Regions from separate parts of the Homo sapiens genome. Here regions 1 and 2 are each linked to region 3. The links come from fine-mapping of genetic effects on gene expression. A gene starts in region 3. Each other region holds a variant in brackets. All regions are shown on one strand. Distances are from middle to middle. Region 1 overlaps LOC107984530 (a long non-coding RNA gene). Region 2 overlaps RAB21 (RAB21, member RAS oncogene family). Region 3 holds the start of RAB21 (RAB21, member RAS oncogene family).

Region 1 (2,765 bases), 40 kb before region 3:
GGAAATTAAGAAAAACGCAATTTACAATAGCATCAAAAAGAATAAAATACTTAGGAATAAACCTAACCAAGGAGGTAAAACACTTGTATGCTGAAAATTATAGAACATTGCTGAAAGAATTGAGAGAAGACACAAATAAATTAAAAGACATCTTGTGTTCATGGATTGGAAGACAATATTGTTAAGATGTTCATACTACCCAAAGCAATCTGCAGATTCAGTACAATCCCTATCAGAATTCCAGTGGGGGCCAGACACAGTGCCTCATACCTGTAACCCCAGCTCTTTGGGAGGCCAAAGCGGGCGGATCTCTTGAGCCCAGGAGTTTGAGACCAACATAGGCGACATGGTGAAACTCATTTCTACAAAAAAATACAAAAATTAGCTGGGTATGGTGGCATACTCCTGTAGCCCCAGCTACTCAGGAGACTAAGCTGGGAGGATCTATTGAGCCTGGGAGGTTGAGGCTGCAGTGAGCCATGATTCCACCACTACACTCGAGCCGGGGCAACACATCAAGACCCTGTCTCAAAAAAAGGAAAAAAATTCCAATGACATTTGTTGCAAAATAGAAAAATTCATCCTAAAATTCATATGGAATCTCAAGGGACCCTAAATGGCTAAAACAATTTTGAAAAAGAGTAACAAAATTGGATGACTCACATTTTCTTATTTCAAAAATTATTACAATGAGACAGTAATCAAACGGATGTGTTCTGTCATAAAGACAGACAAATAGACCAAGGGAATAGAATAGAGAGCCCAGAAATAAATTATCTTACATATGGGCAAATGACGTTCAACAAAGGTACCAATAATAGACAATGCCAAAGGATACTTTCTTCAACAAATGATATTGGAATACTGGGTATCTGCATGTAAAAGAATGAAATTGGATCCTTACCTTACGCTGTATACAAAAATTAACTCAAAGTGGGTTAAAGACATTAACATAAGATCTTGGCTGAGTGCAGTGGCTCACTCCTGTAATCCCAGCACTTTGGGAGGCCAAGAAGGGTGGATCGCTTGAGTCCAAGAGGTTGAGACCAGCCTGGGAAACATTACAAAACCCTGTCTCTACAAAAAGTACAAAAAATTAGCTGGACATGATGGCGTGCACCTGTGGTCCCAGCTCTTCAGAAGACTGAGATGGAAGGATCTCTTGAGTCCAGGAACAGAGGTTGCAGCGAGCCAAGATCGTGCCACTGGCTGCACTCCAGCCTGGGTGACAGAGCAAGACCCCATCTGAAAAAAAAAGAAAAAAGCCCATTAACATAAGATCTAAAACTTTAAAACTCCTAGAAGAAAACACAGGAGAAAGCTTCATGACATTTGACTTTGCAATGATGTTTTGGATATGACAACAAAAGCACAGGCAAGAAAAGCAAAAATAGACAAATGAGACTACCTTAAATTTAAAAATTGTCGTGCATCAAAGAATACAATCAGAGTGAAAGACACCGTATAGAATGGGGAAAATAATTACAAATCATATCTCTGATAAGGAGCTAATATTTAGAATATAAAGAACTACAACTCAACAACTGAAAAATTAAAAAATCCAATTAAAATATAGGCACAGAACTTGAATAGATGTTTCTCCAAAGATGATATACAAATATATAAGCATATGAAAATGCACTCAACATCACTAATTTTTAGAGAAATGCAAATCAAAACCACACAAAGATGTCACCCACACCCATTAGGAT[G/A]ACAACTCAAAAAAAAAAAAAAAAAGGAAAATAACAAATGTGGTCAAGTATGTGGAGAAATGAAACCTGTGCACTGTGTTGGGATGTGAAACAGTGTGACCACTATAGAAAACAGTTTAGAGGTTCCCCAAAAAATTAAAAATAGAACTACCATATGATCTAGTGATTCCACTTCTGGATGTATATCCAAAAGAATTGAAAGCAGGGTCCCAAAGAGATAGCAGGGTCTCAATCCCATGCTCATGGCATTGCTATTCACTACCCTCAAGAGATGGAAGCAACCCAAATGTCCCTCATGGATGAATGAATAAATAAAATGTGTTATATACATACAGTGAAATATTATTCAGCCTTAAAAAGGAAGGAAATTGTGTCACATTCTACAACATGGATGAAGCTTCATTGAGTACATTATGCTTAATGAAATAAGCCAGTCACAAAAAGATAAATGCTATATGATTCTGCTTATATGAGGTATCTAAAATTCATAGAAACGGAAAGTAGAATGGTGGTTACCAGGAGATAAGGGGAAGGGGGAAAACAGATGTTTAATGGGTACAAAGTTTCAGACTGAGGGGTGAAAAATTTCTAGAGATCCGTTTCACAGGAATGTGAATATACTTAACACTATTGAACTGTGCAATTAAAAATGGTTCAGATTGTAAATTTTATGTTTTTTTACCACAATTCAAATAAAATAGGTAAATACAAAAGAGAACTCTTCCTAACTATGGTCAAAGAAAGTGATGCAACTACAGAGGAGTCAGAGAGATGCTGGTTTTGAAGACGGAGGCAGGAGATTATGAACCAAGGAACATGGGTGGGCTCTAGAAGCTGGAAAAGGCCAAGAAATGTGTTCTTCCTTATAGCTTCCAGAAAGGATCACAGTGCTGCTAACAGCTTGATTTTAGGAATTCTGACTTACAACACTAAGATAATAAATTTTTGTTGTTTTCAGCCACTAAATTTGTGGTAATTTGTTACAGCAGCCACAGAAAACTAATACACCATGTCAGCTTTGAGTGGCAGAGTAATGAAGCACAGACTCTGGAG
Region 2 (2,765 bases), 31 kb after region 3:
GGGTTAAGGTTGATTTTTTTTTTTTACAATAGATGTCCAGTTCTATTAATACTACTGTTTTTTGAAAATATTCTTTCTTCATTGAATAACCTTGGCAACCATGTCAAAAATCAAGAGACCATATCTACGGGGTCTATTTCTGGACTGTGTTTTTTTGGTTCCACTGATCTATTTCTCCTATCATTGTCTCACTGTTTTGATTAGTGTAGCTTTATACTAGTTCTTGCAATCAGGTGGTGTGAGTCTTTCTGCTGTGTTCTTCGAAGTTCCCTCATCTTAAACTCCATTATTCTTCAAATATCGCTGTGGTCAGGGACAGTGGCTCACACCTATAAGCCCAGTGCTTTATGAGGCCAAGGCCATAGGATCACTTGAGCCCAGGAGTTTGAGACCAGCCTGGGCAACATAGTGAGACCCCCATCTCTAGCAAAAAAAAAAAACTCAGCCAGGCATGGTGTTGCATACCTGTAATTCCAGCTACTCAGGGACTGAGGCAGGAGGATCAACTGAGCCCAGGAGTTAGGGGCTGCAGTGAGTAAGTGATGATCACACCACTGCACATCCAGCCTGGGTATCAAAGCGAGACCCTGTCTCTCAAAACTAAAATAAAAAGAATCATTTACTTAAAAGTATTACATTTCTAGTTGAAGAATAAATCCTGCCCCCTAAATATTACTTGGAATAATTTGAACTTCTTTGACATATTTCTAAGTGTGTTTGGAAAATCTTAAGGATTATACTTGTACGCAGGCAATTGTTCAGAGCAAAAAAATTTTTTTCTTTATTGATATCACTGTGGCCATTATACCACTGGATAAATAAGCTTACTACTTGATACTAGTTTTTGACACTAGTTTTTTAAAACATGCAGGTGAAGCTGTTTTAGTGAGCTGACCCAATGTTCATTATATTTAGTTTCTTTGTTGGTCGAAAGTCAGAAATAGCTATCATAGTGTTATACTGAAATTTTAGAAAGAGAAAACACAAATATTGTGGTCCTAATAATGTTTGCTTTCTCTCTGTCTTAGGGATGATAGAAACAGCACAAGTGGATGAGAGAGCAAAAGGCAATGGCTCTAGTCAGCCGGGAACTGCAAGGCGAGGTGTACAGATTATTGATGATGAACCTCAAGCCCAGACCAGTGGTGGAGGGTGCTGTTCTT[C/T]TGGATAACTGTTCACGCCTAAGAAATTAAAAGACAGAACAAAACTGTGGATCATTGCCCTCAACATGAAGACTGCCATATTCCAAGTCACATTATTTTACCAATGGAATTATAGAATTAACAGTATTTTAAATTACGTTTATAACACTGCAGAGACCTTAAGTGCTAAACTTAGTGGAGTTTGTGACCAGAGAATTGGCATTTTCTACAAATGTTTTTTTTTGTTTTTTTTTTGTTTTTTTTTGTTTTTTTTTGAGACGGAGTCTCGCTCTGTCACCCAGGCTGGAGTGCACTGGCTTGATCTCGGCTCACTGCAAGCTCCACCTCCCAGGTTCACGCCATTCTCCTGCCTCAGCCTCCCGAGTAGCTGGGACTATAGGCGCCCACCACGACGCCCGGCTAATTTTTTGTATTTTTAGTAGAGACGGGGTTTCACCAGGTTAGCCAGGATGGTCTCGATCTCCTGACCTTGTGATCCGCCCGCCTCGGCCTCCCAAAGTGCTGGGATTACAGGCGTGAGCCACCGTGCCCGGCCTACAAATGTTAACAAAGCAATTACCAATGGCCTTTTTACATATTTTTTCTTTAATGAGGAATAATATGCATGTAGAAAAGACCTACTTAAAGTCTTCATTTATATTCTTTCAAATCAAATCTTTATTTAATAACTTATATATGTTGTTGGAATGGTTACATTTTTGCAGCCCTTTGTATTTTGTGGTAGTTGAAATTGTATCACTTCTAAACAGCAAACTGTTTTTGTTTTTAATTAGCAGATATCTGAAGTACTATTTTTGCAGGGTTTGCACAGGCCCGTAACTGTCTACTACTTTGATATAATCTGTATACATCCTGTATGCTGAGCTGGTAAAATACATTGTAAATTACATATTAAATATTTTATCTGCTTTTACAAGCGCAAGGTGCAAAAATATATACAATAGTCTCATTGATGACTGTAAAGTGAATTAACATTTGGTGATTATGCCTAGCTTTTTTGACTAATATAAAGATCATAGCTCCCCTTCACTTCTGTCTTAACTTGAACATGGCGTGTTTAAATTTTCATACATACTTTACTTGAATTATTGCTGTTGTCACATATTTTTGCCTCTGTGAGTTCATCTGATGATTGAGCAGTAGCATTTGCCTTTTGGGTTTTTTGTTTGTTATTATAGAAGAGATGACTTCTGCTGATTTTGCTTTAGAATGGTTACCTTAGAAGAATTTGGGTGGCTCATGTTGAATTTCACTTCTGCAATAGCTTTCATTTTCTCATAGGCTTTATAAGAGATGGGTTCAGTGGTATGAGCAGAGGAAGAGATCCCAGATAGTAGCCAGTTAACCAAGACTCATTCATATAGCACGTAGTTTATGTTCCTGAGGCAGCACTTTTAGATCCTTTGTGAGCAAGTTCTATTTGTTCATTGCTTGCCAGAGATGAACACAGAATGTTCTGTTTCATTTTACAAGAACTATCCTGAGTTTCTGTGGATGGAAACATTACATGTAATGCAGATATAGTGAACACTGGAAAGATTTATTAAAGAATTATATTTGTGTATACTTTATAAATTAGTCCCTCATTAGATTTTTTTTTCT
Region 3 (2,765 bases):
CTGGGATTACAGGCATGAGCCACCACGCCCGGCCTCTTTTTTTTTTTTTAACCTGGTTTGAAGTGTGAAAGAAGTTTGATTTTTAAAAAAATGTTTACCTGACACCAGGTTTCCAGTAAATTTTCAGAAATATTAGTATGATTTCTTGGAGGAGTATGGTTTCTTGGAGGCAGGCCGGGCGTGGTGGCTCACACCTATAATCCCAGCACTTTGGGAGGCCGAGGCAGGTGGATCACTTGAGGTCAGAGTTCAAGACCAGCCTGGCCAACATGGTGAAACCCTGTCTCCACTAAAAATACAAAAAGTAGCGGGGCGCGGTGGTGGGCGCCTATGGTCCCAGCTTCTCGGGAGGCTGAGGCAGGAGAATCACTTGAACCAGGAGGCAGAGACTGCAGTGAGCTGAGATCACGCCACTGCACTCCAGTCTGGGCGACAGAGCGATACTCCATCTCAAAACTAACAATACAAACAAACAAAAAAGAATGGGGATGCAGATGAGAAAAAACAAGCAATCATCGAACAAGCCACCTCAAGGTGGAGTACCATGGAACGTCAGAGGCTTCATGAAAGTCAGAAAAACTGAAGAGCACTTGGGGTTAGGAATTCAAAGGTGGGCAGCTCTTATACAGACCTTGCCCTCAACAAACCTATAGTCTAATGAGAGTCGATAAACACTTAGCAAAGTATTAATAATATCCATGGAGTGTGTAAAGCCCTAGTAAAGGAGGTATACTGGTGGTAAGAAATACCTAATTTTGTGAGGTGGGGGAATGGAAGGATGGGGGAAGGATTGGGTGGTCAGGGACGCGGTTTAAGCTGAGACTTGAAAGATGATGGAGTAGTTGACCAGGCGGTCAGAGGAACTTGGAAGCGCTATGATTCGGGATCCCACAGAGAGAGATTCAAGGGCACCTTGGCAGATATGGTTTACAGTGACCTCTGGTGTGACAGATCATTAGCATTGTGAACATGCAAAAACGATGAAGTTCTGCCCTTCATTTCACCAGAGCTGGGCTCGCCTCAAATTCCTGGTTCCTTATTCCCGCTGGCTCCCACCAACTGAAAAGCAGAGGTGGCTCGCAAGCGGCGGGGCTCTGCCCTAGATTGCCAGTAGGCGCTCGACTCACATCCAGCTCCACCCCGGGAGATGCCCCAGAAGCCCCGCCCACGTCCAGGCACGTTCTTCTGGGGCTAGTCGCAGGGGCCGCCCCGGCACCGGCGCTCACGTGACCCGAGGTGTGACGTAGGAGGAAGGAGACGCCATTAGAGGGAGGCAGAGAGGGATCGTTCTTCGCTTTTCCTCCGGTGCCTGACGTGGTGGGCTGGGGCCCTTCATTCTCGGACTTTCCCTCAGCCCTTCCAGGCCTCGCCCGAGGAGGGCGTGGGGACAGCGCCCGGGTCGGCGGGGCCGGGGCGGTGGGGGCTGAGCCGGCCGTGGCTGTGAAGGCGCTGCCGCGGCTGTCGGGAGGGCGGCGCGACACTCGGGCTCGGGCGGCCGGGAAGCGACGGGATGGCTGCGGCCGGCGGCGGCGGCGGCGGGGCGGCGGCGGCGGGCCGAGCCTACTCGTTCAAGGTGGTGCTGCTGGGGGAAGGCTGCGTGGGGAAGACGTCGCTGGTGCTGCGCTACTGCGAGAACAAGTTTAACGACAAGCACATCACCACTCTGCAGGTGCGGACCTCGGGGAGCGGGAGGGGGCGCCTCAGGGCCCCTACCCCTCCGGGGCTGGGGAAACTTTGCCGCCCTGGTCCCCTGGATGTAGGCTGGCAAATCTCAGGCCTGTCATCTCCGCCTTCGGTTTACCTTTCCGAATTCGCCCTGGGGAATCACCAGGTCGGGGCAGCCTGTAGACGCGAGGACAGGCTGTTGGGAGGGAAGTGGAAGGGCCCTGAAAAGTCCCCAGTGTTCCCCGTGGTGGCTGCGCACGTTGTGGTCTCCGTCCGTGGGCTGTTTTTTCCCATTTACTGCAGTTCCTGGGTCCCAGGTGTCAGTGTTGCAGTCTCCAAATGTTAGCTCCTTTTCTTTCTTTCAGAATTAGGAACTTAGCTGCGTATTTGATTTTGCGAATTAGGTGATTTGTAACTTCAGCGCTTACTGATGACTAAGTGTTTATGCAAGTTCCATTTTGTCCTGAGTAACAGGAATGGCAAAAGAGCCATCTCTGGAGGTTTTTTGAAATGACCGCTTGCCTAGGCGTGTTACGCAGTTTCATTGCAGCCTGCGTGGGTCTGACTTGCGGGTCACTCATATTCTGCGAGGTCGATTGACCCACGCTGAAACATCAAGTGAATACTGGCCAACAATTGGTCCCCAGACTAAAAGCCGCTGCTGTTACTCAGTTTCTTTACCTGTAAAATAAAAGGTCGGCTTTCTTCCACAGGTACATTGGAAAGGTGTTAAAATGTTATCATTGATTGAGAGTGAAGCCAGGCCTTTGAGGGAGTTGTACTCACCCCACCTCTCCCAGAGAAATCAGTTTTGATGTTATTAGGAGAAATTTATCCTACTAATTTGACTTACCAATTTGGTCAAAGGCAGTAAAGTCTAGTGGACTTTTGAGCCTGATTGTCCAGGTTCATGTCTCACCTCCATCCATTTAACTAGCTGTGTCATACTGGGTAAGTTACTTAACCTGTCTGTGCCTGTTTCTTCTGTTAAAATGGCCATAATAGTAGTATCTAGCTCATAGGGTTGTCAGGATAAATATACAGAAAAAGCACTGATGACCTGGTCCAGTGTAAGTTGTCTGCCTTTAATTACCGCCCCA

The links. PIP is the estimated chance that this variant, and not a neighbour inherited with it, causes the effect.
Region 1: its variant is fine-mapped to the expression of RAB21 in whole blood (TOPMed, PIP above 0.99).
Region 2: its variant is fine-mapped to the expression of RAB21 in tibial artery (GTEx, PIP above 0.99). The same link has a PIP of 0.9 or more in aorta, fibroblasts and sigmoid colon.

Annotation. Positions count from the first base shown.
Region 1 is chr12:71,713,867-71,716,631 of GRCh38, forward strand. The region is part of intron 1 of LOC107984530 (a long non-coding RNA gene); the gene reads left to right. Among named protein-coding and RNA genes, the nearest start is that of TMEM19, 29 kb to the left of the region's middle. The variant G/A (reference allele first, on the strand shown) is at 1,713.
Region 2 is chr12:71,784,503-71,787,267 of GRCh38, forward strand. It overlaps RAB21 (RAB21, member RAS oncogene family), which reads left to right. Exons shown (of 7, transcript NM_014999.4): 7 at 1,029-2,765. The coding sequence ends at 1,171. Among named protein-coding and RNA genes, the nearest start is that of RAB21, 31 kb to the left of the region's middle. The variant C/T (reference allele first, on the strand shown) is at 1,164.
Region 3 is chr12:71,753,620-71,756,384 of GRCh38, forward strand. RAB21 (RAB21, member RAS oncogene family) reads left to right here and starts at 1,244. Exons shown (of 7, transcript NM_014999.4): 1 at 1,244-1,669. The coding sequence starts at 1,511. RefSeq lists enhancers at 1,016-1,305, 1,946-2,135 and a silencer at 1,286-1,565.